Regions from separate parts of the Homo sapiens genome. Here regions 2, 3 and 4 are each reported to be linked to region 1. Evidence: microRNA targets listed by miRTarBase, many of them from high-throughput screens and not tested one by one. Region 1 holds a microRNA gene; each other region holds the end of a gene's coding sequence.

Region 1 (8,390 bases):
TTTCTTTAACAGAAATAAAATCTGGTATATCTCAGTCTATAATTATTAATACATGTTCATTCTCTGTTGATTGTCTATGTTCTCATCTAGACTGTAAGCCACATGAGAGCAAAATCACATCTGTTTTATTCACCACTGCGTTTCTAGAACCCAGGGATGAAAAAAAATCAAATGGACAAATAATAGTGTATGTTAAGCACTAACTATGAGCCAGATACTGTGTTAAGTGTTTTGCAAGCTTTACCTCCTTTAATCCCCCCAAAAGCTCTATGAAGTCCTTGCTGTGCAATGAGAAAATGGGTTTAGTTTAAGTATCTGACCACGATTTGATCCTAGATTTGACAAGAGATCCAGACTCTTCTATCAGTCTCCTACATTTATCGCAGAAACAAACAAGCTATTAAAAAGCACCAAGATGCCAGGCATGGTGGTGCCATGCCTATAATACCAGCACTTTGGGAGGCCCAGGTGGAAGGATCACTTGAGATCAGGAGTTTGAGACCAGCCTGGGCAACATAGAGAGAACCTGTCTCTACAAAGAATTTTTTAAAAATTGGCCAGGCATGGTGGTGCATGCCTGTGGTCCCAGCTGTTCAAGAGGCTGAGGCACGGGGAATCCCTTGAGCCCAGGAACTGGAGGCTGCAGTGAGCTATGACTGTTCCACTTCACTTCAGCCTGGGTAACAGAGTAAGACCCTGTCTCTAAAAAAAAAAAAAAAAAAAAAAGGAATTATAATAATAATTTTTTTTTTGAGATGAAGTCTCACTTTGTCGCCCAGGCTGGTGTGCAGTGGCACGATCTCGGCTCACTGCAACCTCCACCTCCCGGGTTCAAGCGATTCTCCTGCCTCAGCCTCCCAAGTAGCTGGGACTACAGGCACCCATCACCATGCCCAGCTAATTTTTGTATTTTTAGTAGAGACGGGGTTTCACTATGTTGGCTAGGCTGGTCTCGAACTCCTGACCTCGTGATCTGCACGCCTTGGCCTCCCAAAGTGCTAGGATTACAGGCATGAGCCTCTGTGCCTGGCCATAAAAAATTTTAAAACACACAAAAGAATCCTTCTTAATCCCGCCACCCCAAATCTCTGTATTATGTTAACATCTTGGTTTGTATCCTAGATGGCTGGATGAATAGATGAATGGATGTTTTTTAGTTTTTAGACAAAGGTGGAATCATGACTCTGTTCTTTTGCTTGCTTTTTAAAAGAAACTAGATGAAATACACTCTAAACATCTTCCCATGTCAACAGAATATCATTTTTTTTCTTATCTATTCTTCACCATTCATCCTAAACCCACATTGTTGGCTTCAAGTAAACTCACCCTCAAATAGTAATTATCCCTTCTATTTGCCTATCTTTTTATAGCTTTGATTCCCACAAGGCTGTGAGATAGGCAGGAAAAGGATTATCTCTACTTAACAGATAATTTTAAGAGTTAACAGTTTGTTCAGGGTCATATAGGGTCAAGTAGGAGAGCCAAGATCCAGAGCCCATCTGTTCAATTCCAAAGCCCATGGGCTTTCCATTACATCCCATTGCCTCATACTATGTATCTGATTGTGTGGCACGGACTTAAAAGTTAAGCTAACCTGGGTACCAATCCTGGCTCCAACAATTCCCAGCTATACAACCTTCAAGCAAGTTAGCTAAGTCCCCTAAGCTCAAGTTTCTTGTAGGGTGTGGCGAGAATGACTTGATAAAATTCACATCAAATACTTAACATGGTAGCTGGTGGTTACTGCTGAGGGCTGACTGACCCATTCATGTCCAGTGAGTAAGTCTGACAGGGCTGTGCTCTGGCTTGAAAGAGGTCCTGTACGCTCTGCCAAACCCTAAATTCCTACCCATATTCCCATCCCAATTACAAGCAGAATGAGGACCTGCCAGTGCTACTTTAGACATAGAACAGAAACCTTCCCACTTAGCCTGGTGCATCACGGCAGGAAGCTACAAGACAAAGCCAGGCCCTGGGGCTCCCAGTTAGAGGAAGTGAGAAAAAGACGTGTACCCTGGGAAGAAAAAGGGATGCATTTCCGTTCCCATCCAAGCCTCACTTCCTTAGAAAGACATTTCAGGTAGATTAACACACCATCTCTGTGCTGTTTTCCATATGCCATTTGGGGGGGCATTTTGTGGTTATTTTTAAGAGACTGCACTTGTAACAAAACAAAAAGTAAGCTTTCTGTTTTCCTTTCTGGGTCATGAGCTGGTCTCAACCCTCCAAATTCAACTGTCACTGGAAGTCTTTGTGGAGTTGGAATTTCTATTGGGAGTGGCTGTGAAGGTAGGAAGAACATCAGCAAATGTGGTGATATGGTTTGAATGTGTTCTCCCAAAGTTCTTGTGCTGGACACTTAATCCCCAATGCAACAGTGTTGAGAGGTGGGAACTTTTGGAGGTGACTGGATTGATGTTATTATTGTGGGAGTGAATTTATTTAAAAAGTAAGTTACCCTCCCTCATGTGTTCTCTTGCCATGTGATGCCTTCTATCAGGTTACTATGCAGCAAGAAGGTCCTCCCCAGATACAGCCCCTGATCTTGTACTTCCCACCCTCCAGAACCATGAGCCAAATAAATTTCTTTTCATTGTAAGTTATCCACTTTTTTTTTTTTGAGACAGGGTCTCACTCTGTCACTCGAGCAGGAGGATTGCTTAAGCCTGGGAGGTCGAGTCTGCAGCAAGCTGTGACCACGACACTGCAGCCTTGACCTCCCAGGCTCAAGCAATCCTGCCTTAGTCACCCAAGTAGCTGGGACTACAGGCATGTGCCACCCCACCTGGTTGATTTTTGTAATTTTTGTGTGTGTAAAGACAGATTTTGCCATGTTCCCCAAGCTGGTCTCAAACTCCTGGGCTCAAGCTCAAGTGATCTGCCCATGTTAACCTCCCAAAGTGCTGGAATTACAGGCATGAGCCACTGCACCAGGCCCCAGTTTCAGGTATTCTTATAGCAGCACAAAACAGACTAAGACAGACACACAATGTCATAAAAATGAAGGAGAAGAGGGGCTTAAAAAGAAAGAAGGCACTCTGAACTTTTCCTACAGATAAACTCACTTATATAGGAAACTAGGAAGTTATTCAAAGGGTGATGTAGAGTTAGATAAGCAGATAAGAAACAATCTCCAAGACAGAGGGGAATAATGCAAGATACAGAAATTGTACACAGCATGCTAACATCCTTGTGTGTGATGTAGACTATTTCTGGGCCTGAACACATCTTCTCTAGAAGGTCACACAAGAACCTGGTTGCAATGGGTGTCTCTGGGAAGGAGAACCAGGAAGCCTAGCTAGGAGCCATGGGTGAGGGGAATCTTAATTTCACTTTGTAGCTTCTGATGCTGCTTGAATATTTTATTTTTTCACATTTTTTTAAAGGAGAAAGGATTAGAGCACCTAATAATATGGTGAGGTCAAGAAAGATGAGACAAGCTTATGAGAAGAGGCAGTTTTCAGGTCATTGATGACTCAATGAGAAAAATATCAATAGGATGGCGGGAGCAGAAGCCAGATTGCACCAAACTGAGGAAACAATAAATTGTCATCAAGTGGAAATAGCAGGAACTGGCAACTCTTTCAAAAGTGTGTTTGTATGCAAAGTAAGGTAGGGTAGTAATCATAGCAGTAGTAAGAGTAGTAGTAAGGAGGATTCCCAGGTTTGAGGTAGGGGATTTTTAACATGAAAAAGACATAGCAGGTTTATGCACAAAGGAGAAGGCCAGGATAGAGTCAGAAAGGACAGCTGCTGTTTTTGCCCAGCCAGCAGGCATTGTCTTTTCTTCTAGTGACAGTGGCTTTATTTTTCTTTTTTTCTTTTTTTTTTTTTTTGAGACGGAGTCTCGCTCTTTTGCCCAGGCTGGACTGCAGTGGCGCTATCTCAGCTCACTGCAAGCTCCGCCTCCTGGGTTCACGCCATTCTCCTGCCTCAGCCTCCCGAGTAGCTGGGACTACAGGTGCCCGCCACCGCGCCCAGCTAATTTTTTGTATTTTTTAGTGGAGATGGGGTTTCACCGTGTTAGCCAAGATGGTCTCGATCTCCTGACCTCATGATCCACCCGCCTCAGCCTCCCAAAGTGCTGGGATTATAGGCGTGAGCCACCACACCCGGCCATGACAGTGGCTTTTTTTTCTTAAAGGAGATATTCCTTCTCTTCTTTCAAAATGTCTGATTTAGATAGGACATTCCTTCTCTTTTTTCAAAATGTCTGGATTAGATCCAGCTCTCTGGCTAAGAGGGGCTGGTGACCCAGGCCCGGTCAATCAGCACATTCCATCCCCCTGGTGCAGTGAGCAATTCCCTTAGAGATGGGCATATGACCCAATAATCTTCCAAAAAGATTGAGTCCTAGGCTGCTGGGATTTTATAAAAAGGAAGCCCTTTTCTTTGGTAGAAGTTGCAGAGATAATGGGACATAAATTGGGAGTTGCTATGTGCCCAAGAAAGCCTTCTGAGAATGAAGAATGAAGTCAACACAGTGGGGAAAGTAATCCTAAGGGATATAGATAAATGTTTCCCTGCTGGCATTGTTTGGGACCAGATGTAGATGATCCATCTACATCTGAATACTAACTATCATTATTTTTTGCTTAAAAGTCAGTTTAAATCAGATTCCTATTTGAAACCATAGGAGTTTTGTTGATACAGAGAGAAGCTGTAGACAGACTAAACAGGGGAGATAAGCATGAAGGATCAAGAGGCTGGAGTCCAGAGCAGGAGTGAGGGTAAGTCTCACATGAGTTGGGGGAGGGAAAACATATTTGCTAAGACAGAGATGGAAGCTGGGCAAGGAGGTCAAGATGACTATGGAGGTGCCGGTAGGTGGTAAGAAGCTGACGGCTACCAACCAGTGGCACCCATGGGCCTCAATCTTCCTCACGATTTAGGGCAGGGATCCCCAATCCCTGGGCCATGGACCAGTATCAAAATAACAATAATAATAATAAATAATAATATAATAGTACATGACTCAAAGTCATGTATCTGGTAGGTTCTATGGTTGACTTGCCCCGCCAAAGTTCATGTGTTAGAAACTGAATCTCCAATGCAACAGTGTTGAGAGGTGGCACCTCATGAGAACTTAACAACATTATCTTGGTAGTGGGATCCTAATAAAAGGGATGAGTTTGGCTCCGTATCTTTCCCCTGCATGTGCACACACATGTATGCATATGCATATATATGCACACACATGCACGCATACTCTCTCTTGCCCTTCACCTTCTGCCATGGGATGACACAGCAAGAAGTCTCTCACCAGATGCAAGCCCCTCACCCTTGGACTTCCCAGCCTCCAGAACTGTAAGAAATAAATTTCTTTTCTTTATAAATTATCTAGTCTGTGGTATTCAGTCATAGCAACACAACATGGACTAAGACAGAAACTGATTTAGGAACTTCACCTGGCTCAGGAACCTGACAATTCCAACCATCTAAAGGGAGCCTGGTTTGATCTGAAGTTTAAATGGGTTCTCCATGGGTGTGTAGATAGGTGGAGAGAGATAAACAGACTCCAAGCTGTGTGTCCTAAATGGCTCTTGGCTATTTGTTTGTCAGTATATAAATGTAGGTTGATATTTTTATTAAGATCTCTGCAAACTCCACACAGTGGATACCCCAAAAGAACAACCAGAAATGAGCAGGGAAACCTCTACTCCTTAATGAGCCTGTCTCGGCTGCCTCATTTCAATGCTGCCATGCCCTTCTTTCAGAGGTTAGTCAATGCATGCCGTCTTTGTCAGCCTCAAAATCAAAGCCCTAAGGAACAAATAAGATTTGCATCTTTTAAAATCCTGACAACGAATTATAAAAGCTGTGAAGATGCTACTTATTTGTTGCAATATTTTAAAATAAATTTAAATCATTTGAATTGTAAGAATACTCAGTCTTTTTCTATTATGTAACAGACACCATTCGATGGTGTTATCATGACTCTCCTGGTAGCACAATCACAAACCTTACCAGGGGCTCCAAGTGCTTCTAATAATCTTTACAAGGGTCTTGTGCAGTGTACAGTCCAGGGATCAAGTCCTGGCTCCTCTGCTTTCTAGTTGCTGGACCTTGGGCAAATGCCTTAACTTTTCCAAGCTCTAGTTCCTCATCTATACTGTGGTGATAACCCTACCTTACAGGGTTGAGAGAATTAAATGAGGCAATTCATGGAAGGCAGTTAAAACAGTGCCTGATGCAGACAAAAATGCAATATATTTTCTAATATATTTGAACAGTAAAGGTTTTATGAGAATTATTTTAAATCACAATTTTCAAAAATGAATTGTTCTCTTGAGTATTTGATACTTTGGGGGAGTTAGGTTCTGTGCTTAAATAAATCACATTGAGTAAGTGTTAGATCCTTTTCTTAAGGCTTGAATTTGGAGTTTTAACAGCAAACATACAAAGGTTACACTTTCTGGATTCAATTCAGAAATGTCAGCACATCAAACACACACATTCAGACACACACACACAGAGGCACTTACTCATACAGTGTAAAGGGCAATTGGGTTTGGAAGAGAATGTCACATGAACAGATTCGCAGCTCATTAAAGCAGTACTTGAAGCTTTTGACCTCAGCTACATAAACAATGTTTTCAGATGATAAAATTGCTGAGAAACCAAGTCCTGTGAGTATGATTTAGTTTCTGAAGCAGTTCAGCATTTAGACTCTCAGAGGATACGGGCAATGGGATGTGATCAGATAGCCCAAGTAGTATTTTGGAAATGATACTAACAGAGCATAGGACAAGGACCTTTGCAAGCTATAAAAGCTTGCCAGGTTTTCAGCCTTTCCTACTGTCCAGATGCCTCAAAATTATGGGGCTTTAAGTAAAGTGCAGATAAGAATCGGTAACAAGAGCAGAAATGATTGGAATCAGTCTGTCATACAAGTGGGTTTGGAGTTAGTGAGGCCTGACACAGGCTAGAATGGAAGGAAGGAGGGAATGAGCATTGTAGTGATGTCTAGACAGGACTGGATGGTTGCTCCAATGTCAGGAGTGGAGGAAAGGGGATCTTAACGTCTGCTTCTCATCAGGTTGTACTCCTCAAGCCCTGCCCAGAGAGCATTGACGATCAGATGCATCATATTTTAGAACACTTGACAATCTGGTTGACCATATTTTAGAACAATTGATGATCTGATTGATAATATTTTAAAAGAATACTAGAGCCATGTTTACTACTGGGCAGATCATTGTACACACACTTTAGCGCTTAAGACTCCACAGGTGCCAGGCACAGTGGCTCACGCCTGTAACCCCCAGCACTTTCAGAGGCAGAGGTGGGAGGATCACTTGAGGCCAGGATTTTGACACCAGCCTGGGCAATTAATTAAAAACAATGAAAAAACAAATAAATAAAAAGCAGAAAAGACTCCAAGGACTCTAATGAAGCCTACTTAGCTTTCTCTTCCTCTTCACCTCACTGCTTCTATGCTGCTACCTGGGTTGTCTTCTGAGGCGGCTGAATCCTTGTACCCTGGGCTCATCCCCCTACCCAGTTTTCACAGTAAGCCCTTCATTAGGTGTTATGGACACTATGGGAGCCTTTCAGAGGAAGAGTGACAGGACTTCATTAAGCCAATTCGTGACAATACATGAATGCCACCAAACTCTCCATTAGGCATTTCAATGTGAACATATTACCTAGCATATCTTGTCCTGTGACATTATAGCTCCATGTACTACCACTTCTGCAATAAAATATGCTCATCCATGCCAAAGGCTCAATGCACCTTTTGCTACAAGTCAGCAAAATTCTGAGCTGGATCACCCAGACACAAAGCAACTCCCTGGGTACAGCCCTCAGCCACTGCACCCTCCGATATCACTACATTCTTTGCAACAGGATGGACAGGAGGAAGTCCAACCAAGAGCACAACCATGTCCTCCTGCTCTATGCCCTGCAAGCCAGCGCTCTGTATCACAGAAGCTTTCCTGACCATCTATTTCATTCATTCATCCTATTGCTACTGGGACCAAACTCTTGGCTACCATGTTTTATACTTGAGGAGCAATCATGTGGGCAGTCTGCAGGGACTCATGTTCATCAGCGCCTTCATGTCTCCATGAGACAATGACTGAGTGCCTACAAGATGCCAGGAACTGGGGAGGACCTGAGGATGCCAACTTGGGGGTTCTCAAACAGCCCCAACCTGCCCAAGCTCCTATCACCTTTTGCCTGGATTATGGCAAGAGTCTCAACCAGTCTCCCTGATTTCACCCTTGTCCCTGCAGCACTCAGAGGGATCCTTTAAAAACCCAAAGTCAGAACATGTTATTTCTTGGCTCATGAGTTGGTGTAAAAGCCAAAGATCCTTCAGTGGCCTGTGCTTTCCTTTGGCCTCTCTGATCTCACACCCCCTTTTCCTTTCTCCCTCAACCCCT
Region 2 (8,390 bases), not on the chromosome of region 1:
AATAAAGACAAAAATTAGGAAGAGCACGGTGGCTCACGCCTGTAATCCCAGCACTTTGGGAGGCCGAGGCGGGTGGATCACAAGGTCAGGAGTTCAAGACCAGCCTGGCCAAGATGGTGAAATCCTGTTTCTACTAAAAATACAAAAATTAGCCAGGTGTGGTGGCGGGCGCCTGTAATCCTAGCTACTCAGGAGGCTGAGGCAGAGAATTGCTTGAACATGGGGGGTGGAGGTTGCAGTGAGCCGATCTCACACCACTGCACTCCAGCCTGGGCGACAAGGCAAGACTCCATCTCAAAAAAAAAAAAAAAATTAGCCAGGCCTGGTGGTGAATGCCTGTAGTCCCAGCTACCAGGAAGGCTGAGGTGGATCACTTGAGCTCTGGAGGCTGTGACCTATGATGGCACTATTGCACTCCAGCCTGGGCGACAGAGCAAGACCCTGCCTCAGGAAAAAAAAAAAAAAGAAAGAAAGAAAGAAAAGAAAATGAGAAGCCAGTGTCCCACTTCTGAGAGTAGCATTAGGGCTAATGATCCTATGCTGAGATGGAAGAGATTCAAAACAGCAAGTCTACTGGGTCCCCACTCTGTGCTTAGACCCCTGCTAGGCCCTCAAAACCTTGTGCAGGGAGCTCACTCCTTAATAAAAACCAAACCTAGAACTGTAAGGCTTTCCTCTTGAAGGTGGGCTCTGCAGGTGGGGAGGGCTGGTGAACAGGTCGGACCTGGCTGGCTTCTGCCACCCTGGCCCCCAGAGGTGCTTTCCTTCTCAATTCTCCCGCCCACATGTAATGGAAACTTTACCCTTGGTCCACAGCTGAGATAGGCTGTGGCACCAAGTAAGTTTGCTGAAGACCAAAGGAGCTCAAAAGGGAAAAAGCAACAGAGTGCAAGTCACTTGGATTGTTGGAGCTGGCCGCCCCTGTGGCTGGCTCACTGGTGGGGTGTAGAGGGCTGCCTGAGATCCTTTGAGGACCAGGACTCCCTCACCTGGTGCCATAACATCCTAGCTCATGTCTCTACTTAGAGGATGCAGTATCTCAGCCCACCAGGCAGGAGCCACTCCAAGGCATCTGGACACCTTTATGATGAGACCTTAGAGACTCATCCCTAAAACTAAACCTTCCCTCAGCCTGATAACCTCAGCATTAGATTAAGTTCCACACTGCAACTTCCACCTCCCAGATTCAAGCAATTCTCCTGCCTCAGCCTCCTGAGTAGCTGGGATTACAGGCGTGTACCACCACGCCTGGCTAATTTTTTTGTATTTTTAGTAGAGACAGGGTTTCACCATGTTGGTCAGGCTGGTCTTGAACTCCTGACCTCGTGATCCATCCCTCTCGACCTTCCCAAAGTGCTGGGATTACAGGTGTCAGCCACCGCGCCCAGCCAAGGAACTTACACAGTGCTTGATGATATTTGATTAAGTACTAACTTGTATTCATCAATAAACTCAATATAGTGAGCACCTGCTGGTGCCAGGAGCAGCACCAGATGCTGGGGATACTGTGATGAGTGAGGCGTCCTTACGTTGTGGAGCTTACAAGTTGCTGGGAGAGAGATGTAGACCAAGTAACACTAGGTGCGGGGAGGGAGAGCAGCAGGGACCGTGGGAAGCTTTGCAGGAGCTGCTGTGGCCTAGCAGGTGAGGGATGTCTGAGCTGAAGCCTGAGGATAAAGAAGAGCCTGCCACAGAAGTGGGAGAGGTAGGTATGGAGGAGGAAGAGGTCTCCGAGCAGAGCAGGGCTGGGGAAGGCTTCCTGTAGGAGCTCCGATCCAAGCTGGACCTTGAGTGTGAGCTGGCCTAGGGGAAGCCAAGGGGGCCCAAGCAGTGAGGCGGGGATGAGTATTTGGGGGTAGTTTGGAGCCATTGGTCCGGCTACTCTGGCCACACAATTGTGTGAGAAGGAAGTAGGGGAGAATCATTCCTTTTGGAGAGGCTGGATTTGAGTGGATGGCCAGGCAACCACATGGACATGTCCAGGAGGCACTTCCAAAGTTAGAAATATGGACCCCTGGTACAGGTGAGCATGAGGGGCGACACTGTCTTCTGAGGAAGAAACTACAGAAGGAGGACTGGAGAGCCGACGACAGGGTGGACAGGGAGACAGTTGGGGGGAGGAAAGGAGCCAGTGTGCAAGATAGAGGATCGGAGCACCTTGTTCTGCACAGGCTCAGAGAACGATTCTCAAGGGGAAGGAGGGAGGAGTGGCTCATCTGTGCCAAATGTGAATGAAGTTTCCAGAGGTGCGGGAATTGGGCAGAGGAGCACAGGATTATCCATACAACGGGGAGCATTCATAATAAATTGCCTGGGTCTCTTCCTCTCTCCCAGAAGAGCACCTTTTCTCACATTGCTGGCAAAAAGCATCCCAGAGGCCCCAACAGCAGGGCTCAGACTCTGGCCATCCCTGGGGCTTCGGAGGGAGGGGGCCCAGGCTCTCTGATGGGTGCCAGTGTCCACCCTTCCCATACAGCTGACTGATGATGGGGCATGAGCATGGCCTTTGAGCTGCTGAAAGGGAAGTGGCCACAGTCTGCCTGGGTAGGCAGGTGGGGGCAGGCCTGCCTGACAGCTCAGCAGCGAGGTGGCCTCTGCCTCACCCCTCCAGGTTCCGGAGTCACCTCTGTCCTACAGCTTTGCACAGAAGGGCTCACCGGGAGTGAGGGGAAGCCTCTCTCCTTGAACAAGCCTGGCCGTGACAAAAGCTGAGCTTGACCTTTTTCACGACAGGCCCCTTTATATATTGCTGGCGCCAGGCCCCAGGCTTCCAGCTCAGCTTTTCCCGGGACCTGTCCTAGCTGTTGCTTTCGGCCAGGCTGGGCTTCACAAGAGAGGTGGGGTGGAGTTCTGGCCCAGGGAACAGTGAAACGGCTTCAGAAACCAAGGTGTGGCTAATCTGATCCAGGAACATCTGCCCCGCCCATGCCCATTAACCTTTTTTGGCACCAGGGTAGCTTTAGCCTACTCAGCCTCTTCTCCACCACTCTAATAGAGGTAAAGTTTGGGGAGTACAACCGGGAGAGGATAAGTGGGTGGGGAGAGTGGTTACAGCTATAAGGGAGGCAGCTGTGATGATTCACGCAGAAAGAACAGGGTTTCCAGTCAGAGGGGCCATTCTGAGCAACTCACGTCTCTTCCCGGGGCCTTCATTTCCTCAACAACAAAATGCAATTAGGAGTATTACACGGCTGGCACATTTTAGAGGACTGTCACAGGTAAACGAGAGAGAGAAGGAACTTTGCAAACTGTCAAGGTTAAATAAGTGTTGGTGGGTACCTTGACCACTGTCACTTAAGGAGTTTTCAACATGAAGCCTGTGGAGCCTGAATCTGGGGGATCTGTGGGGTGCCTGAAATAGTGTGTAAAATGCACTTGCGGCCTCTTGAGAAGCATGCATCAGTTTCTCAAAGAGGTCAGGGACCCAACAAAGTTTAATATCCAGACACGGCCCAAGTCCGTCCTCCTCACTTCTCCGATGAGTCAGCTGATACCCAAGGTCACACAGCTTGTCAGAGGCAGAGCCAGGATGTGGGGCCCTTGTTCTCTGCCCTCCCTCCTGGGTTAACCATTGCCCCTTCCATGTCAGATGAGGGAGAAAATGTTAGAAGGGAGCAAGTGTGGGGAGAAAAGCCAGACGAAGGGCCCAAGCCACTATCCCTGCTCGGGGTTTCCAGAATGAGGACATCATGGTAGAGGTGGGGGGACAGTGAGAGACAGGAGAATGAGGAGGCTCCAAGGATGGGAGAGGCCCTTCCTGGAAGCCCAGATTTCAGAGTAAGTGAGTCATCCTCCCTTTCCCATAAAGCCCCCACAAAAGACTCAGAGGAGGAAACACAACGCTTTCTCTAACACTGTCTTGAGATGACTTTTCTGGTTACTTTTTTGGAAAAAAAAAATTGGGGGCCGGGTGCGGTGGCTCACGCCCACCCAGCACTTTGGGAGGCCGAAGTGGGTGGATCATGAGGTCAGGAGTTCAAGAACAGCCTGGGCAACACAGTAAAACCCCATCGCTACTAAAAAATACAAAAATTAGCTGGGTGTGGTGGCGCATGCCTGTAGTCCCAGCTACTCAGGAGGCTGAGGCAGGGAATCGCTTGAACCTGGGAGGCAGAGGTTGCAGTGAGCCAAGATCATGCCACTCCACTCCAGCCTGGTGAAAGAGCAAGGTTCCGTCTAAAATAATAATAATAATAAAATAAAATATTCTAAAAGTATGACGTCAAGATGGCCTTAAAAAAAAAAGCTTTATGGAAAACTGTGACAGGCCATATACAAATGTGAGGTATTCATCACCCAAAGATGCCATTTGCTGAGCAACTACTAAGCGCTAGGCACGTGCTGGACGCTTTGCCTAAATCAGTATGTCACCACCACAAGAGGCCTTCCCTGACTACCCTGTTAAAGTAAATCCACTCCTCTCCCCACTCGCTAGTTATTCTCTCACGTTCCCTGTTTTTTCCTTCTTACTACTCCTTGTAATTTATGATGTTTTTGTGTGCTTTTTCAATCCTCTTCCACCAGACAGACTATTAGCTTGCCATGAACAGGAGTCATGTGGGTGAGCTGATGGCAGTCTATCCATACTAAGCACAGTGGCTTGTATCCAGTAGTTACCCAAATCCTTGTTAGACAAACACAGCCACGGAGCTGGAGGCCAGTCCAAACTGGCCTGTTTATCTTCCAAGTCAAGTGAGACTCAGCCTTCCCTGCCCACCCCAGAGCAATATACAGCTGAGAGTCTACGCCCCACCCCTCGAGCCTTAACATAGCAGATAAATTAATGATCTCTTTTATAAAACATTGTACAGGGAAAATACATACATAGAGAGCTAGTGCTGGGGCTGGGGTGGGATTTGCTTCTTGAACACAGATAACCAGACCCTACCCCATCAGGGTGGCTGGCCTTGGTAATCTGGGCATCCACCCACCCCTGCACTTTCTTCCCTAAAGTGGCTCACCTGCTGTCCTGACAACCAGCCTCGGCTGGTTACCACAAATAATAAAGGTCCAACATCTTCCCCCCAAAGGGAACTACTTTCTGGCTGGCCCCCACCAGCCTGCTCCTCTGAAATGGGCACTCTCCAGTCCTTCCTTCTTACTGAGGCAGCCCACCTTGACCTGGTCCCAGGAATTTGGCCCACCAGTACCTGAAGATAGGGAAGCAAGACCAAGGAATATTGTTTCCTGATATGTTTGGTGATCACAGCATCTAAACCAGGACTTTTTTGAAAAGTGGAAGGGGGTCTAATTCACTGGAAAACAAGCATAAACCTGGACTGCCCAGGCAAAGGACACGTGGTCACCCTACTGATAGGTCTCCCCTGCTCCTTTTTTTTTTTTTTTTTTTTTTTTTGAGACGAGTCTCGCTCTGTCGCCAGGCTGGAGTGCAATTGTGCAATCTCGGCTCACTGCAACCTCCACCTCCTGGGTTCGAGCGATTCTCCTGCCTCAGCGCCCCGAGTAGCTGGGACTACAGGCGCCCACCACCATGCCCAGGTCATTTTTTTATTTTTAGTAGAGACAGGGTTTCGCCATGTAGGCCAGGATGGTCTTAATCTCTTGACCTCATGATCCACCCGCCTCAGCCTCCCAAAGTGCTAGAATTACAGGTGTGAGCCACCATGCCCAGCCAGGTCTCCCCTGCTCTTAACTGGCCCAATCCTAGCACTCTTTTTTTTTTTTTTTCCGTATTTTTAGTAGAGATGGGGTTTCACCATTTGGGCAGGCTGGTCTCGAACTTCTGACCTCAAGTGATCCACCGGCCTCGGCCTCCCAAAGTGCTGGGATTACAGGTGTGAGCCACCGCGCCCAGCCAACCAATCCTACCACTCTTGACTTTCCCAAACACATTCCCCAACAGCAGCAAGCTTCTTCAGACCTCCATTCCCATCTCTGCTGCCTCCACTCTCCAAGGCTTTCTAGCATCTTAAGGCATCAAGAGTATTGGTGACTTGTAGTATCAGTGTTAGGAAAAATGCCTTCTCCAAATCCCATATGAGACCTGGCCATGTAAGGCCCCTAGTGTCAAGCCTAAGACTCATGGCTCCTTGGGCCCAGTCCCCAAAATCAGGGCTGCACAGGTCTGAATAGCAAAGCCAGGCTTAACCTTGTTTCCCATCCTAAACTTGCCAAGTGTCCTCTCTCTAGGCCTCCCTGTAGCTAAGGGCTAGGGCCAAGGAAAAATGAACCATCAATCTCCCACCTCTGCCCTTGGCCAATGCAAAGGGCTTCCATTCCACATGTGGGAGCTTCACTCCCCACCCCACACATGGTCCTTCTCCACATGTTATACATACACATTCCTGGTCCCACCTCAATGCGGCTAGGAACCCCAGGTGTCCACTCTTGCTTGGGATGGCAGGTGATGGAGGCTAAAGATCTCCCTTCGGTGCCCTGCACACCCACCAGACAGAGCTGGGCCTCAGCCCTTTGCAAGGGCCTGACAGGCAATCACAGCTATCTCGATGGGTTCCAGTTCAGTCAGTGCCCCACCCCTTGCTTTCAGAACCTGCTCAGTAGGCCGTGCTTGTAAAACTGTTTTAAATAACTCTTGCTAAAGCAGATAGTACCAGAGAGCAGAAACTCAGCGCCCAGGTCCTTAATGGTTCCTTCTCTCTACCCTCCTTCCCCTCCCACCCCCCACGTGTAAACAGTCCACAGTCACACCAGCGCTTTGGGAAACAGAAGCCCACTCTCGGTCTTCCTGGGCCACTGCTTCTCATCGTTGGTCTTTGGGGATCAAAGACTCCTCTGTGTCTGAGTCAGGTCGCCCAACACCTGCTGTGTACCTCCCACCCCCCACAAGAAACAAGTGCCCAGATCCTTAAAGACACAGTTTGTTGGAGTAGAGCTAAGAGAACCCCTGGCTCAGGAGGTGGCTTTCCGATGGGCCCCTGAGCAGACATAGGAGATGGGATGGCGGGTCCCAGGCCTCACGGTGAACGTGTTGATGGGGCTTCCATAGCGGGTGGTGGTGTAGGGAGACCTGGGGGAGAGCAAGAGATGTGAGGTGAATATCTGCAGCTGGTTAGCCAACACGTCTCTCATCTCCCCGAGGGACCGAGAGGAAAAGATGCTGCTCATACTTCTGTATTTGCCCCGACAAGCCCTGGGCTTATCGACCCCAGGGAGGGACCGCAGACATCACAAACAGGGCTCCCATTCTGGTCTGGGCCCTGCTGGCCGGAGAACATGCCTAACAGCCTTTCACTCAGAACTCTTTCACTCCTGGCCTGTGTCGGGATCCAACTCTGTGTTGGGAAATCCCTCCACCCAAGGGCCACTCAGATCTCTCCCCGCCCCACACTTAGCCTGACCTCTGGGATCTAGCGGGCAGGAGAGAGACAGACGAGAGGAGCTGGTGGGGAAAGAGAAGGGAGGTCAGGAGGGAGGTCAGGAAGGCGCCAACAGCGCCCTCTCCCGGTAAGTGGGCCTCCCTCCCGCGTTCTACCTGCAAGGCCGAAGGGAGAAAACCAAATGTTTTCTCTTGACGGATGGCCGGGACTCCTTGGCCCTCGCCTGGCTTTCCACCCCTCCTGGCTTCCCGCACCAGCCGGGCCCGCAGCTCACCTGCCGGCAGCTGGGGCGAAGCCGTAGTCGGCGCTGCCGGGCGCTTTGTGCTTGGCCTCCGCGGCGCCCCGGGCGGCGCCCTCCAGGGACAGCCTCGGCGCGTGCAGGCCTCCGGGGGGCGCGCGACCCGCCGAGTTCACGCGCCGCATCTCGGGGCCTCCGGGCTGCGGCCCGAAGCAGTTGGGAGAGCTCAGGCTGCGGCCGGTGCCACCGTGGGGTAGCCCTGGGCCTCGGTGCGGCTCCCCGACGTACAGGCGCTTCTTTATGAGCGAGCGGCCCCCTCCCGAGAAGCGCTCCAGGCCCCCAGCCCCGGCGTAGCGCGCGCCCGCGGGAAAGCGCGAGAAGCCGAGAGCCGGGGGCGCCCCGGGGCCAGCGTTCGGGAGCTGCCTCAAGTCTGAGTAGTTGTTCCGGGGAGGGGAGCTCTGGCGGCCCAGATACTGGAGGGCCGGGGCCGGGGGCTCAGGGTCATTGCTGAACTCTGGCGGCGGTGGGATGACCTCGAAGTTGAACTCCTCCTCCTCCTCCTCCCTCTTGTTCGAAGGAGAAGGTGGGGAGGAGAAGGACTTGGGCAGCGGGTGGCCCTGGGGGAGGTTGGAGGGAGCTACTCTTTCCCAGGCCACAGGGGCCTGGGGCTCTGGCTTTGTCCAGTTGTGCCTGCGGCTCAGCTCTGTGCCCTCTGCGTCTCTTCCCAGCCGCGGCCCCCACTTATTGGGTATTTCGGTCGTCAGCGGGGAGTCCTTCTCAGCCTCCTTGGGTAACTTGGGCACCACAGTGAAGGAGTTGGGCGTGCCCTGGCTGTGGAAGATGCTGTCAGAGCT
Region 3 (7,000 bases), not on the chromosome of region 1:
TTGTTCCACTGTAACAACAAGTAGAGTGGAAAATGTGGTACAAATGCATGTCCTAATTCTAGTCAGGAGCTGTGGCCACAAGGGCCACCAAATCCAAAGTAGCAGTATCCTGCCACGGCCCTGCACCTGCCATTTTAGAACCTGCTGAAACCGTCAGCTGCCTGCAGCCAGCCCATGTCTGCTGGAGAGATGGGAGTAGGGGAGCCATCTCTGCACCAAAGCAAGAGTGAGGTCATCACAGGGACCATGCAAGAAGAGGCGCAGCTGTGTGGCACTGAAGCCGGCAGCCGGCCTTTTCCACCACTCCCTGGCTCCTCGCTTTCCTGGCATCAGAGCTGATTGTGGGGAGAACCGAAAGGAGCAGACAGAGAAGCTTCAGGTCTTTTGCTTAAAACATTTCCATTGTTCCAAACTGAGTTGTCAGGGATAATGGCTCAGGGGTGATTATATGCATATTATGTATTTAATGGCTGGGAGTTCCTGTGGAAAATATTGTTCCATTTTTTACATTTGTGTGTCCTGCTCCAAAATGGCCTTGTAACTTTATCTGGACTTGAGTCTGTGCCTCGATGTTGTCATCCTCCATTCCCTGAAAAATGGAGCAAAATCCCAACCTGGGCTTATTCAGTGTAGTCCTATTGTAATAACTGCCTCCTGAGTGCCCAATCTGCCCCCAGGACCATCCTGGGTGCTTTATCTTTAATAATCTTTCCCTCTAGACCTGCCAGTTGATTTGTGAGAGATGTTACTATCCTCATTCAGCTGATGAGAAAGCAGACTCTTACCGGGGTTGAGAAACTTGGCAAGGCCATGTAGTTCGTAGGCTGATGAGAACCATGCTCTCCCCACTCCCCTGGGACGCCTTCGACAGGTTTTAGGAATTGTTATCCAGGTCATGATGGTTTGGCCCTGTTCCACTCGTTTCCCACTCTTCTCCCTGGAAGATTGGGGCTGGATGGCACTCTTAGGAACCTAGGTAGGGTGTACATAGTCCTGTTGTGAGACAGTTTTAACGTAAACAGTGTGATAAGGTTTTGGCTTCTGGCCCTTTGGGTCTGACCTGATACAGCAATTAGAGAGGGTTGTCAGAATGCCGTCTGCACAGTTTTAAGCTGAATGTCCTTGCTTTACAGGAGCAGGAGCAGTGACTTCACCTGAGAACATCCCAGCGGGAGGACAAGAGAAATCATGTTTATTCCTCAGGAATACTGAAGTGCCCTGGAGTAAGCTGCCATTCTTCTGTAACAATGTTATCAGTAATGCTTTAAACTCCAGCACCTGGTTATGCATTTGAAACCAAGTCTGTTTCTTGTTTTGTATTTTCTCTCTGGAAGTTGTAAGGAGGTGGTCTTAAATAAATTAAACAAAAAGAGGAAGTCCATTGCATGGCCTTTGTTTCTTCACCTTTGGTCTCTGAGCATGAGGAGGACTGTGTGTGAACTGCCAGCAGCTGTAGCCACCTGCTCACAGCCTCTCTGAGAACCCCCTGAAACCAGTTGTTGGGTATCCTTCCCATTTGCCCCCTCAGGCGTAGTTTTCAGAACTGCTTCCACCTCGTAATCAGAAGTTGAAGATTGCTGCTGCGTGGCCTGATGGAGATGACTGATGTCTTAAGGCGCCTTTCCTTCTGTGGCACCTCTTCGTGTGTTCTCACCTGGGGACCTGGCAGGGCACATCTCCGCTGTGCCTACTGCAAGGCGGTCCCACTGCTGCTGTATTAGCAGGGGAAGAATCCTGGCTGTGTGGATGGCCCACTCCATTGAAGTCAAGTCCTGCAGCTTCATAGAGCTTGAGACAGTCCAAGCTTCAGCTCTGGAGGGCGGAGGAAAGCTCATGGCATACCCACCTGGCCGGAGGAGCCCGATTGGGGTTAATTTTATCTTCACGTAGCAGCTGAAGTTTGAGGACAAAAGGGCCACTTCTGATGCCCCTCTGAGTTTGTTCCTGTGGTTTCACTTGAACCAGGGATGCTAGATGCAAAAGTCATATTTTAGCAATTTCTTCAGACGATATACAGAACCCCAGCGCTCAGCCGTTCTTATTTCTTTTTCCTTATCGTAGAATTAAGATAGGGAGAGCCCGATCCCACTTGCCCCTGTATCCTGTAAATGTTGATTTATCATCTACTGTAAGCGAGGCACTGTTGTAAGCAGCAGAGATAAATGGATAAATAGACACAGGCTTCTGCCTTCAAGGAGCTTAGAGTCTGATGGAAAGACAGACGTGCAAACACAACTCTGAAAGAAGTGTTTTAATGGAGAAGAGAGGTGTAGGCAAAGTACACTGAGAACAAAGGAGAAGGAGCAACTATGTCTCCCTAGGATGGCCCCACAGGCGACGGAATGCCTGCGCTGGGACCCGAAGTTGACTGGGAATCCCAGACAGAAGGAGGGTAGCCTCTGTGTTTGCTCAGGATCATGTAATGCATATTATAGCTGGGAAATCGCAAGTAGTTCAGCATAGCCAGGGTGTGTAGGGGCAGGGGAAAGGCATGGAGGGGGAGGCTGGGCAATAGGGTACAACTCATGTCTGACTCCAGTTCTGGAACATTGATTAGACCTTAGTTCTTGCAAGTGCTATAGTGAGTACATTCAGGGTAGCAAATACCCTCCCTCAGCCTCCCCACTCCCTTTTCCAGAAAGGTCTGCTAGGCTCTGCCCTGCAAACTGTCCAGGCTCCTCTGCCCTCTGGGCTTGTTTTCCTCTTTATTGCTACTTGGCTGTTTTTCACTTGGTCCTCTTCATTCTATGATTAAGGCAACCCATATAATTGAAAGAAAAATAATGTGCAGCCTGTTTCATCCCTTCCACTTGTTTTCTTACTATTTATTTATTTATTTCTGAGATGGAATTTTGCTCTTGTTGCCCAGGCTGGAGTGCAATGGTGGCGATCTCGGCCTGCTGCAACCTCCGCTTCCTGGGTTCAAGCGCTTCTCCTGCCTCAGCCTCCCGAGTAGCTGGGATTACAGGCATGCGCCATCACACCTGGCTAATTTTGTATTTTTAGTAGAGACGGTGTTTCTCCTTGGTCATGCTGGTCTCCAACTCCCGACCTCAGGTGATCCTCCCGCCTCGGCCTCCCAAAGTGCTGGGATTACAGGCGTGAGCCACCGCACCCAGCCTCCTATTTGCTTTAAAAGTAATTTCCTGGCCGGATGCGGTGGCTCACACCTGTAATCCCAGCACTTTGGGAGGCCAAGGCAGGTGGATCATGAGGTCAAGAGATCAAGACCATCCTGGCCAACATTGTAAAACCCTGTCTCTACTAAAAATATAAAAATCAGCTGGGCATGGTGGCGCACACCTGTAGTCCCAGCTACTCAGGAGGTTGAGGCAGGAGAATCATTTGAACCCGGGAGGCAGAGGTTGCGGTGAGCTGAGATCGCGCCACTGCACTCCAGCCCGGCGACAGAGCGAGAATCTGTCTCAAAAAAAAAAAAAAAAAAAAAGCATTTTCCTTCCCCAATTTTTCTGTCATTTTCCCATCCTCATTCAGGCAGAGAGAAGAATAACATGCCCCCTTCCAAAAAAGACAAAACACAAGGTAGCCACAAATTCCCTAGACACATTAGAAAAATAGGGAGTGGAGAGGGGCATTGGAATGAAAGTTCTCTATCTCATTAGCTGTTAGGCTTTAGGCATTTATTTGGATGGATCCCTTTGGCACCTTGGAAGCACCACTGAAGTGCTCTGAGAAAGGGGTCAGCTGTCTGAGGGAATAGTTCTGGATAGAGGCCACAGGAAGCACTGGCCAGTTGCTTTAGTTCTAGATAGCTTTGTATTCCCGCCTTGTTGCCCTTAGCGGAGGCTGGCCCAAAGCACACTTGATCTTGTCCCCACTCCCTGCCCCCATCTCAGATCAACCTTCAGAAAGTCCCGGCTTGTTGGCAAAGGCACACATTCTGTGTTACTCTTAAGTTTCATTAGAAATTCAAGTCCTCTGGGGCCCTGTTCCCTTGTGGGCTTGTGCAACTGACTTTGTTTCTTGTCTGCCTTTCTGGAACCAAATCCAAGGAAATTCATGGGTTTGGGGAGACAGCGATGGGAACCCAGCAGGGCACAGGATGCTAGGATAAAGCTGTGGCGCCCCAAAAGTGGCCTGCTCTGCCAACATACATAAATACATACAGTCTGAGCTTGACACTGTATAATTTGGCCCAGAACAATATGTATTTTGAGCTCATTTAGGTGAATGACTTTGGCATTCCATGTACCCACTAGGGGAAGCTTTATCAGGCTGCATTTGCCTTATGCAGAAGTATGCCTTTGTTCTGAGAAATGGCCTCAGAACACACTGTTGAGCTGTCTCCTTTAGTGAGTGTCATCCTCTCATCCATTTCAAAAGATTGCAGATGCCGTCTTGAAGTCCTGCTTGTAAGAAATGCAGGGGTTGGGAATGGAGGAGATGACGATGTAGTTTTGCTTTTAGTTTTCCCAAACCTGTTTACATTTTTTAAAAATGTAACCAACCCATAATTGCATTTTACTTGTCGTGGTTCGATCTGATTGTATTGTCGAAGGACTATTTTTGAACCTGTCCAAATAAACTCTGCAAAGTATTTCCACAAGGATGTGACTCCATGGCGCTTGGACAGCCTTTATCCTGAATGGTACTGAGACACAAATGTTTTCCTGTTGCGTGCTTTCTAATTACCTAAATGCAAACGGGGTGGAAGGGAGAAAGTGGAAATTCTAAGTACCAAAAGGAATGTTAAATTTAGAATAATAAGCTCATCTGGAAGCTATCACCACTTTTTTCTTAAAGTGCGCTGCAAGCATCGCTTCCCCTTGGACACCAAATCATGGTATTGGGGTAAAGACAGACTTGGGCAGGAGCAGGGGAGAAGCCCCATGTCTAATGAGCGGCCTCTGTGTGGATCAAGAGTGACAACTGTTCTGCTGTCAAGTGCCCTGACAAAGAAGAACCAAGGGAGAGGCAGGGCTGTAAATGATTTGGAGTCAGGGGACTGGATCTAAGTTCCCACTCTACCACTTATTTGCCAGGTGACCACGGGGAGTTGCCTTAACCTAAGGGGTTGTTGCAGGCTGGGCACAGTGGATCACACCTGTAACCCCAGCACTTTGGGAGGCTGAGGCAGGTGGATTGCTTGAGCCCAGGAGTTCCAGACCAGCCTGGGCAACATAGCAGGACCCCATCTCTACAAAAAACACAAAAATTAGCCAGGGATGGTGGCATGCACCTGTTGTCCCAGCTACTTGGGAGGCTGAGGAGGGAAGATCACTTGAGCTCAGGAGGTTGAGGCTGCAGTGAGCCATGATCATGACACTACACTTCAGCCTGGGTGACAGAGTGAGACCCTGTCTTAAAAAAAATTAAAAACCACACACACACACACACACACACACACACACACACTTATTTACGGAGCACATGGTCTTTGAGCTAGGCTAGGAGGGGAGAAGGGGAAAAGACACTGAAGAAAGAGAACTCTAGGAGCTTCCGCCCAGGTAGGAACATAGAACTATTACTGGGCATTTGCATTCAGGATAATTGGCTTCAATTGTTTGACCCTCACTTAAGGAGTTCAGAGCCAGAAAGTGGAGGTGGAGGAAGATGTCAAGAATTCTTGAAGGAGGAGTGGGCAGGTGATGAATCTTTACGGGGAAGAAACTGGGGCTAGAAAAAAAGAGCTCATTATCAACTGTCAATCAAGTCATCTTTATTCCCGGTCCATCCAGTTTGAGCTAGGCAGAACATATATCACGAGGCTTACTTTTTACAAGCTTATGATAAAAGTACTATTATCCTCATTTTATGGATGAAGAAACAGTTTTTGGAAGGGCAAATTAACTTGCCCAAGGACAAGTAGGTGAAAACAATGCAGGTGGAATCTGAACCTGATTCCGGAGGCCAGACTCTTACCTACTTTCTATGCTGGTCGAAAGCTGTTTAAAGTGGGGAGGGTCATTTCAAAGGAAAGCAGTTTGATCCAGTTTAAACCTGATTTGAGATACTTAAACTAGTTGAAATGGATCAGAGCCAGTTTCACTGAGTTTAAATTAGTAAGAATAAGTTGATCCAATTTGAAGTCAGCTGTATTTGTTTAAAAAAGTAATTCCTATGTCTATTTTCTATTAATCAGAAACATAATTATCAATCAGAGCTTTGGGTCAGCGTTGCTGATAAGTTTGGCTAAGTCCTTGCAAATGTAATAAAGCATCATGACATTTTATTGCAGTAGGCATCTTAAAATCTATACACTTTTCAATTAGATAATTAGATTTCTTTTTCTTTTTGTCTTTTTTTTTTTTTTTTGAGACAGGGTCTTACTCTGTTGCCCATGTTAGAGTGCAGTGGTGTACAATTTTGGCTCACTGCAGCCTTGATATCCAGGACTCAGGTGTTTCTCCCACCTCAGCCTCCTGAGTAGCTGGGACTACAGCTGCATGCCACCATGCCTGGCTAATTTTTGTATTTTTTGTAGAGATGGGGTTTCACTATGTTGCCCAGGCTGGTCTTGAACTCCTGGGCTCAAGCAATCCACCTGCCTCAGCCTCCCAAAGTGCTGGGATTACAGGCATGAACAACTGCATCTGGTCCTAAATTTATTATTTCTTATTATGTGGCATAATAATTTCTTATTACGTGGAACTTTCCCTTCTCCCTCATTTATTTAGTCATTTATCTATATCAGTATGGACTCATGGATTCTCATTTTATTCAACTGATTACAATCCATTATTATTAATATTTAACTCAAATTGTCTAGATTTGTCCAGTAGGGTCTCTTTCAAATGGTATCTGTATCCCTTTGACATATCCATTCCATTCTTTGAACACGAGCTATTGCAGACTCTTCTTGTATTTGCCCCACCCAGCCCTGGAATCAGCAATTTCTCCAAGGAGCCCTGGTTCCATTGAGTGGGGAGTGGTAGTTAGAAACCAAGCTCTCTAGGTGTGCTTGCTGCTGTTGGTGTGCCATTGCTTAGACACACCAAAAGCTTTGTCCACCTCTTAGCCAACATACTAGAAAATACGT
Region 4 (8,390 bases), not on the chromosome of region 1:
GATCTAAAAGTCGAAAAAGAAAAAAAAAAATATATATGTTCACATACACATATATATTTTAATCTTGGGCCATGGTAAATTTTTGCTGCTGTTAGGGAATTGGGTCTGAGTAAGACTCAATGATTACTGATAGAACTGATTATATACTGATTGCTGATTGTTATTATTATATACTGATTACAGATATAACAATCAATATAACAATATCAGGAATACCTGGGGCTTAATTTCCCCAACAGATAAGATAAATCCTATTAGAGTCAAACTCTTGGTCTCAGACCCAAGTTTTCTTTCCTTCTCATGGAGAGACTGAAGCAAGCATCATTTCTGGCTCATTCCCAGCTCTAGCCCAGAACCCAGGAGAGTGTCCTACTTCTAGTAAGCACTCGCAGTATTTGCCAGCTGACTAGCTGAATGAGTGAATGAATGAATGAATGAATGAATGAATATATGAGTGTGTAAGCTGTCAGCAACCTGATGAATGAGCCTCAATCACAAATGGTTCATCCAGACAAAAGAGCCATTCTGATACACTGAATCCTTCTGTTCTATAGCTTTCTCTCTTTCCCCCTTCTTTTCCCTGGGTGTTTATACATACATGATGCCACTGAAACAAACACCTGAAGGATTGACAAGTGTACAGTGTCACCAAATTAGACTCTTTGTTAAAGTGATTGTTAATACTTGTATGTTTTAACACCTAGCATATCAGACGTACAAGAGGAGATTGAAGAACAAACATGGAAAAAAGAACTCAGGTTGCACAGAAGTCTGCCATACGAGGAAATCGACTTCTTCCAGAGAGACCAATGCCTTCTTGGAGGTGAATGAAGAAGGTGCCATCACTCCTGGGCCACCAGGGCCAATGGATTGCCACAGGGCTCTCGAGCCAGTTGGCCACATCACTTCATGTGAATAGCAGGGACTAGCTGGCTGGACTGGCCCCCTTCTTTTTCAGTGGCCAGTAAAGACAGTGTGCAGCTGACACATGAATCTTGTTGGTAGGGCCAGTGTGAATATTTAAGTGTTCAATGTTAGAATATTTATATTTTCATGTGGATTGTGAATTGTGATGGGATCACTTTTGGAGATTCCCATTTCAGGGAGTTTCTTCTGGGGGTTAACATAACGTATCAATGAGCTGCCTTGTATGTTCTTGTCTTCCCATGCAGCAAATAGTACCTGGCAGTAGGTAAAATCCTTCATTAGGGGAACTTATCCTTATGTTGTGGATTTTTTTTTTTTGAGACAGAGTCTTGCTCTGTTGCCCAGGCTGGAGTGCAGTGGCACAATCTCGGCTCACCACAACCTCCGCCTCCTGGGTTCAAGTGATTCCCTTGCCTCAGCCTCCCAAGTAGCTGGGATCACAGGTGTGTGCCACCATGCCTGGCTAATATTTTGTATTTTAGTAGAGATGGGGTTTCACCATGTTGGCCAGTCTGGTTTCGAACTCCTGGTCTCAAGTGATCTGCCCGCCTCAGCCTCCCAAAGTGCTGGGATTACAGGCATGAGCCACTGCGCCCAGCCACGTTGTGGATTTTAATTGAACAAGAGTTAGAACTCTAAGTAGAGGAGATGTCACCTCATACTGCAGGGTGACGCAGACCTATGTGACTTCTTGACTCTGGGCAGGTCCTCAGGTGCACTGAGAGGAGAACAAATAGCTCTTATAATAAATGGGGCAGTTTTCTCAAATGATTATTATTTTTAAGAAATTGAAAATCATTTTGATTATAGATGTAACACAAGCTTGGAAAGAATTTAAAACACACATACGGTTAAAAATGGAATGCCCTGTATTTTCACTTTCTAAAGATTGACACATGGTTGGGCACAGTGGCTCATGCCTGTAATCCCAGCACTTTGGGAGGCTGAGGTGGGCAGATCACCTGAGGTCAGGAGTTCAAGACCAGTCTGGCCAACATGGTGAAACCCCATCTCTACTAAAAATACAAAAATTAGCCAGTCATGGTGGCATGCACCTGTAATCCCAGCTACTTGGGAGGCTGTGGCAGAAGAATCACTTGAACCCAGGAGGCAGAGGTTGCAGTGAGCTGAGATCACGCCACTGCGCTCCAGCCTGGGTGACAGAGTAAGACTCTGACTCAAAAAAAAAAAGAAAGACCCATGTGTATCCTTCTAAGCTGTGTATGTAAACTGTATCATTTTAAGAACCTTGAGATCATTCCATATATTGTTTTGTAAGTCACTTGATGACACATTATGGAACATCTTTGAGTGTCAGTCTGTGTTGACCTACCTCATTCTTTAGTATAGTAGTGATGTGGAAGTATTCTATTGTGTGGAAGGACTGTAATTTATTTAACCACTCCTTATTCATGGACACTTAGATAGCTTTCAGCTTAACAGTATTACAGTGCTGTTACAAACACTTTTGCCTTTAGGTGCAAGTATTTCTGTAGGCTCACTTCCTGTGACTTGAATTTCCAAGCCAATTGCTTACCGAAATGTATGACAGATTGCTATCTGGCAACGTTGTACAGCAGTGCCTGAGAGGGCCTGGTTTCCCACAGTCTCACCAGTCAAATGAATGATCAATTTTGATTGGTTAAAACATCTCATTTAAAATTTCATTTAGGCTGGGCGCGGTGGCTCACGCCTGTAATCCCAGCACTTTGGGAGGCCGAGGCGGGTGGATCACGAGGTCAGGAGATCGAGACCATCCTGGCTAACACGGTGAAATCCTGTCTCTACTAAAAATACAAGAAATTAGCCTGGTGTGGTGGCGGGCGCCTGTAGTCCCAGCTACTCTGGAGGCTGAGGCAGGAGAATGGCGTGAACCCAGGAGGCGGAGGTTGCAGTGAGCCGAGATCATGCCACTGCACTCCAGCCTGGGCAACAGAGCGAAACTCCATCTCAAAAAAAAACAAAAAACAAAAAACAAAATTTCATTTAAAAACTGAATGAACTAAAGCATTTTTCACAATCACTTGGCAACTTATGTCCTTTGCCTGCTTTTCTATTGTATCTTTTCCTTTTTGATGTATAGATTTTGAACCATAATGATAAGTGACAATGTGTCCTATGTTTTGTCAACATTTTACCTACTCGTTTATCTTTTGTTACTCTATGTCTTTTGCAATACAGAGTTTTATTTTTTTAATATATTCAGCTTATTAATCTTATTAAGAATGTTTTTTTTTTGCTCTGATCTCTGCCAAATGTTAGCATATTTATATATTTGTGTGGATTGTGAATTGTGATAGAATCTTTTTTTGAGAATGTATTTGGCCCCTTTTCAGGGAGTTCTTTCTGGGGGCTTACACAACATATTTACTAGCTGCTGTGTGTACTTCTTGTCTTCCCATGCAATACATGATGCCTGGCAGTAGGTAAATCTGTCCTCTACTAGAAATTATTAAAAATATTTTCCCATATGTTTTTCTAATACTGTGATGGAGCAAATACATACATACTTATTCCATTTTGAATTTTTCCTGTATGGCATAATAATCTAATTTTTTTATAGTTAATTATCCAAACATCATATATTGAATCATTATTCTTTTATCTACTGATTTGAAATGCTACCCTTATCACATAACTTCCTATATAATGTGTTTTTGTTGGGACTCTGGTTCCATTTTGTGTCTATTCTTATTTGTAAGTTTTGAAATGTGTGAGAAAGTGTTTTGAGATTTAATGTTTATAATGTTATTTTGTAAGTATTCCCAATAACTTGTGGGTTAATGCAATGACAATGATTATTGTATTTTCCACCAATTCAGAAAGCCTTTGTGGTAGTACAGAAGGAGCCCCATTAGGTCTTAGAGCCACGGCACTTTTTATATGGAAAAGAACTATGCAGATTTGTGACTTGTTAATTCTCAACTGTTGGTTTACTATTCGGAGAGTCCCCTTTATCCATATGATAAATGTTTACATAATGAGAAGCTAGTCTGTGCTATGTTCAGGCACATGGGACATGGCTCCTGCCCTCACAAAGTTTATAGTCTAGTAGGGGAATAGATCACTGCAATGAACACAGTTAGGAGAGTTGCAAGTAACAGAGATTTCCAGCTCTAAAATGAGTATTACCGTGAGGTTTTTTTTTGTTTGTTTTTTGTTTTTTTTTTGAGATGAAGTCTTGCTCTGTCATCCAGGCTGGAGTGCAGTGGCGCGATCTCAGCTTACCGCAACCTCCACCTCCCAGGTTCAAGCAATTCTTCTCCTGCCTCAGCCTCCCCAGTAGCTAGAACTACAGTCACGTGCCACCACGCCTGGCTAATTTTTGTAGTTTTAGTAGACATAGGGTTTCACCATATTGGCCAGCCTGGTCTTGAACTCCTGACCTCAAGTGATCCGCCTGCCTTGGCCTCCCAAAGTGCTGGGATTACAGGCGTGAGCCATCGTACCCGGGCTCCATGAGTTTTAAAGAATCCACAAAAAATGAATTTCTAAATTGTTTCTCCACATAGACACCTAAAACAAAATGGTAAAATTTAATGCTGTTCTGAAAGCTTAACAATATGGTCAGTATTTACAACAGTTAGGACGTTCCAAGGATGAGGGACACCAAAAGGATGAGGGATACCAAAGGCCATCCTTTAAGATAGAAACAACACATCAGAAGATGGCCATCTCCATAGATGGTTTGTAAACATGTTACTGACAAGAACTTGAAATAGTGAAGATGTTCAGAAGGCCACGTTATCTTTAGAACAAAAAATATAACTGGAAAAAAGTCCGATTTGAGTAAGTTGCATTCTAATTGATGTAAAGAATCATGAGTTAATAAAAGCTGGGACCTATATGAAACTCAGAAGTGGGGCCAGAGAAATCATGTTAAGCAGAATGAGTCCATGTCTAAGAGGAAAGAGGCAGCTGGATGGTCGTGGCAGCAGAGTGCAGTGGAGAGAACACAGGCTGTGTCAGGGCTGCCTGCATTCCACTTTTTTTTTTTTTTTTGAGTTGGAGTTTTGCTCTTGTTGCCCAGGCTGGAGTGCAATGGCGTGATCTCAGCTCACTGCAACCTCCGCCTTCCAGGTTCAAGTGATTTTCCAGCGTCAGCCTCCCGAGTAGCTGGGATTACAGGCACCCGCTACCACACCTGGCTAATTTTTGTATTTTTTTTTTTTTAGTAGAGATGGGGTTTCACCCATGTTGGACAGGCTGGTCTCGAACTCCCGACCTCAGGTGATCCGCCTGCCTGGGCCTCCCAAATTGTTGGGGTTACAGGCGTGAGCCACCGTGCCCAGCCTGCATTCTACTTTAATAGCTAGGAGACCTCCACAGCTATTGGTTGAAGTCAGTCAGAGCTGAAATTGAACGTTTACCTTGGGTATCTGGGCAACTTTGGGCAAGTGACAATCCCTCTGGGGTTTAGTTTCCTCTCTAAAAAAGGTTGATAACACATTCAATCCTGAACAACCTGAAAACGAGGCAAGGTGAAAACACCTGGTCCAATCCATAAGTGATCAATACTTGTTACATCCCCTACTTTTTTCTTGTGTAATCAGAAATACCCTTTGCGTCGAGGATCATTCAGCCTAACCCAGTTAATGAATGACATGTTGGTCTCTAGGCAACCTTCCCATTGGCCTTGACATGTACTTTCCCCAGCAGGAGGAGCCCCTTCTGAATGTCCAGCCTTCCTCATTCTGTTAGACCCACCTATAGCTTCCTTGTAAGCTAATAAATCAGCAACATGGTTTATCAGTGTCCTGAGGTTTTGCTTAGCACAACCTTTGGAATATGGTTATAGTTTGGTTGAGTGAATAAAACTATGTCTCTAAACCTGTAAAAATTGAAGACTACTTTTAAATACTTCCTATCAGTGAATCTCCTCAATAGTTACAAATTCAGAATCTTCTAAATATGTATGAAGATCTTGAAAAATTGGCATAGTGTTCGCTACCTTATACGGAATGGTGGAAACTGAGGCAGAATTGGAAAGGCACACACTACTTGCTGGGACCCAGTATCAATTGCTGTCTTTGTCCTTATGAACAGAATCAAGATATTGTTCATAGCTAGACAGCAACACATCTAGCTAAAAATAACTTTCTTGAAGCTAGAGATGGGCATCTGACAGATTTTGCTAAGACAGAAGGAAAAGTCTGCCCTTGACTTCTGGGAAATTTTGCTTTCTTGCCCTAGTACTGTTTGACCCATTTTCCTTGCCAATTCTTGTTTCTTTTCTGGAATGTGGATATAATAGCTGGAGCTGTGGCAGCCACTTCCAGGCCAAGGAAAGGCCAAGGATATTTATAGCGCTGTTGACATTCTTGAGCTATAGAATTAACTGCCTACTTCTGAGCAACTGCCTTCTGAGCTTGGTTTCTTAAGGAAAGAAAATAAACTCTAAGCCCTCTAGAATTTGTGAAAGGAAAATAAAAACTTGGGACCCCAATTCACTCCGCCAAAAGGAAAAAAATGAAGCTGAAAGCTGAGTCATGCAAGAAACTGCATTTCCTTTTGTTCCTAAGCAGATAGCTACAGATAAAAGGTTAAATATCTCCACAGGTAGTTACTCTACGTTCACCTTATCTATGTGCTGAGTGCAAGATAAATACATAACTATTTCCCTATCTGCTCCTTTTCTCCTGCAACATGTGGGTTCAGTGATGTGACCATACCCCTCTTCTTTCCCCTCCAGCTCACTTTTCTCCTTTAAATATTGAAACCCTCAAATTCATCTTTGGAGAAAGGCACAGACCACAGACTATTTCTGTGATTCCATGTCATTTCTTCCAGGCATGTCCTTCACCTTGGCAAAATAAACTTCTAAATTGAGACATGTCTCACATACTTATTGATTTACAACTTGTAGGCCTGTTTGGTTGCTTTTGCTTACTTGCAGTCAAATATAATCCCAAATTGATACAGTAAAGTTTCGATTGGCTTTAAAATATTATGCAGGTCAGCCTATAATTTATTACATTTATCTCTACCATTACAATGTTTCTGAATTATGAATATTTCTGAATTATGTAAAATGGAAAGCCTATCATTATCAAGGTGTCTGTATCTGGAAGATAGGTGTATTAAGCTGTTTTTTAAATTTATTGGATTATCACATTACATATAGATAACTAGTCCTTTTTAAACCAAAAAATCTGGCAGGCTATCTGGGACCACTGATGTAAAAGAATCTTTTCTCAACAGCTGTTTATTTCCTGTTTGCCATAATAATTCAGAATTATCTCTACTAATGACATGCACTGAAGTTTTGATTTTGGGATAAAATTGTTTCTAATTCTGCAATGCTCAGGACTACACTAAGATACTCAATCTTTTAGAATAATAACGAGTTCAGTTTTGTAAATATATTCTACTACAATATGTGCTTCCCCTTCTATAGCATAGAGTTGTCACTGGCAATCATTTGGCCAGTTCTTGCTGATGGAATGAGTGACAGCAATGTGTTTTGCATGTAAGCCTGGCTCGTAAAACCTCTCCATAGGCAATCCTTCGTGGGGAATGGAGGCGATTCTCAACCTTGGAAGCTATGTGTTGATTACAGTACTTTCATCAGCCCGGGCTAAAAACTGAGCCAAGTAGATCTGATTGCCAAGCTGTTCACTTTTCCAGAACTGTTAGATAAACTAGAAATAAACTATTACGTTTAAGCCATTCCATATCTTCAGTTTATATTTTCTAGCACTTAGCTAATACAAGCTGTGTTAAGAGCTGAATTGTACTTATTCATTAATTTGAGATGAGTGTTTCCATGTGCCACCCCAGCTGCGTGGCCTCACCTTGCTTTCTAACCAGACTGGCCCTTGCAAGTGGCTCATACCATTCCATGCTGGTGCAGCCAGATCCCAGCTGAGGGCAGTAACATATTTACCATCATGAAGTTTCCATTCATAGGTCATAAAGCTAAATCTGCATTTTCTTCCCCCCATTCCATTTCCTAGTGACATTCGTTCCAGAAAAAGCAACCTCCAGCTCCACCCTCTCCCATCTATGTTGACTTCAGATGCGAGCTAATCACCTCCAGCTGTACTGGCCCCCAGCGCTCTGCTGGCCTAGTTTCACATGCCAGTGCAGGAAAACAAGGCCTCATGATTCCAACTCTTTCAGAAAAGAGATTTCCAAATGTCATTTAAAGCAATAGAAACCTTTTTTTCAAATGAAATCTCCGGCTACAACCCAATCTATAATACTCTTCTGATTGAAGTGGGAATGGTAAAGCTTCTCTTGCCATATTCAGAGCCAATTCTGAGGTAGGACCCAAGCCTCTTATCTGCTGGGGCTTTAGCTAGTTACTGTGGGGCTTTATGTTTATTGATACTGTCTTCTGCCTTCAAATAGCCCCAGATTCTCGGGAATAGGTCCCAGCAAATTGCTGCACTTAAGTTTGGAAATTCAAGTCAACTAGCTCAGAACTGGTGCAGTCTTATGAGGATGAGCCAAGCAATTTC

Evidence for each region. The annotated mature microRNA hsa-miR-1273h-5p reads CUGGGAGGUCAAGGCUGCAGU and lies in region 1 at 2,704-2,724, opposite strand. An mRNA with a match to its seed (bases 2 to 7 or 8) in the 3' UTR can be bound and repressed. Matches are read on the target gene's strand: a 7mer-m8 pairs with bases 2 to 8, a 7mer-A1 pairs with bases 2 to 7 and ends in A, and an 8mer does both.
Region 2: miRTarBase lists C6orf132 as a target of hsa-miR-1273h-5p. The part of its 3' UTR that is shown has no 7-base or 8-base seed match.
Region 3: the mRNA of MICOS10 is a reported target of hsa-miR-1273h-5p. Seed matches in the 3' UTR shown: 8mer at 3,076-3,083.
Region 4: the mRNA of SLC10A6 is a reported target of hsa-miR-1273h-5p. The part of its 3' UTR that is shown has no 7-base or 8-base seed match.

Annotation. Positions count from the first base shown.
Region 1 is chr16:24,197,482-24,205,871 of GRCh38, reverse strand. It overlaps MIR1273H (microRNA 1273h), which reads right to left and starts at 2,756; the gene lies at 2,641-2,756. The region is part of intron 16 of PRKCB (protein kinase C beta); the gene reads right to left.
Region 2 is chr6:42,096,891-42,105,280 of GRCh38, forward strand. It overlaps C6orf132 (chromosome 6 open reading frame 132), which reads right to left. Exons shown (of 5, transcript NM_001164446.3): 4 at 7,573-8,390; 5 at 4,229-6,988. The coding sequence ends at 6,871. Among named protein-coding and RNA genes, the nearest start is that of C6orf132, 42 kb to the right of the region's middle. RefSeq lists silencers at 3,325-3,546, 7,454-7,503, 7,664-7,763, 7,784-7,933.
Region 3 is chr1:19,625,254-19,632,253 of GRCh38, forward strand. MICOS10 (mitochondrial contact site and cristae organizing system subunit 10) reads left to right here. Exons shown (of 4, transcript NM_001032363.4): 4 at 1,134-4,567. The coding sequence ends at 1,148. The region is part of intron 1 of MICOS10-NBL1 (MICOS10-NBL1 readthrough); the gene reads left to right. Among named protein-coding and RNA genes, the nearest start is that of NBL1, 16 kb to the right of the region's middle. RefSeq lists a silencer at 3,608-3,808.
Region 4 is chr4:86,816,217-86,824,606 of GRCh38, reverse strand. SLC10A6 (solute carrier family 10 member 6) reads left to right here. Exons shown (of 6, transcript NM_197965.3): 6 at 705-1,139. The coding sequence ends at 919. Among named protein-coding and RNA genes, the nearest start is that of SLC10A6, 29 kb to the left of the region's middle.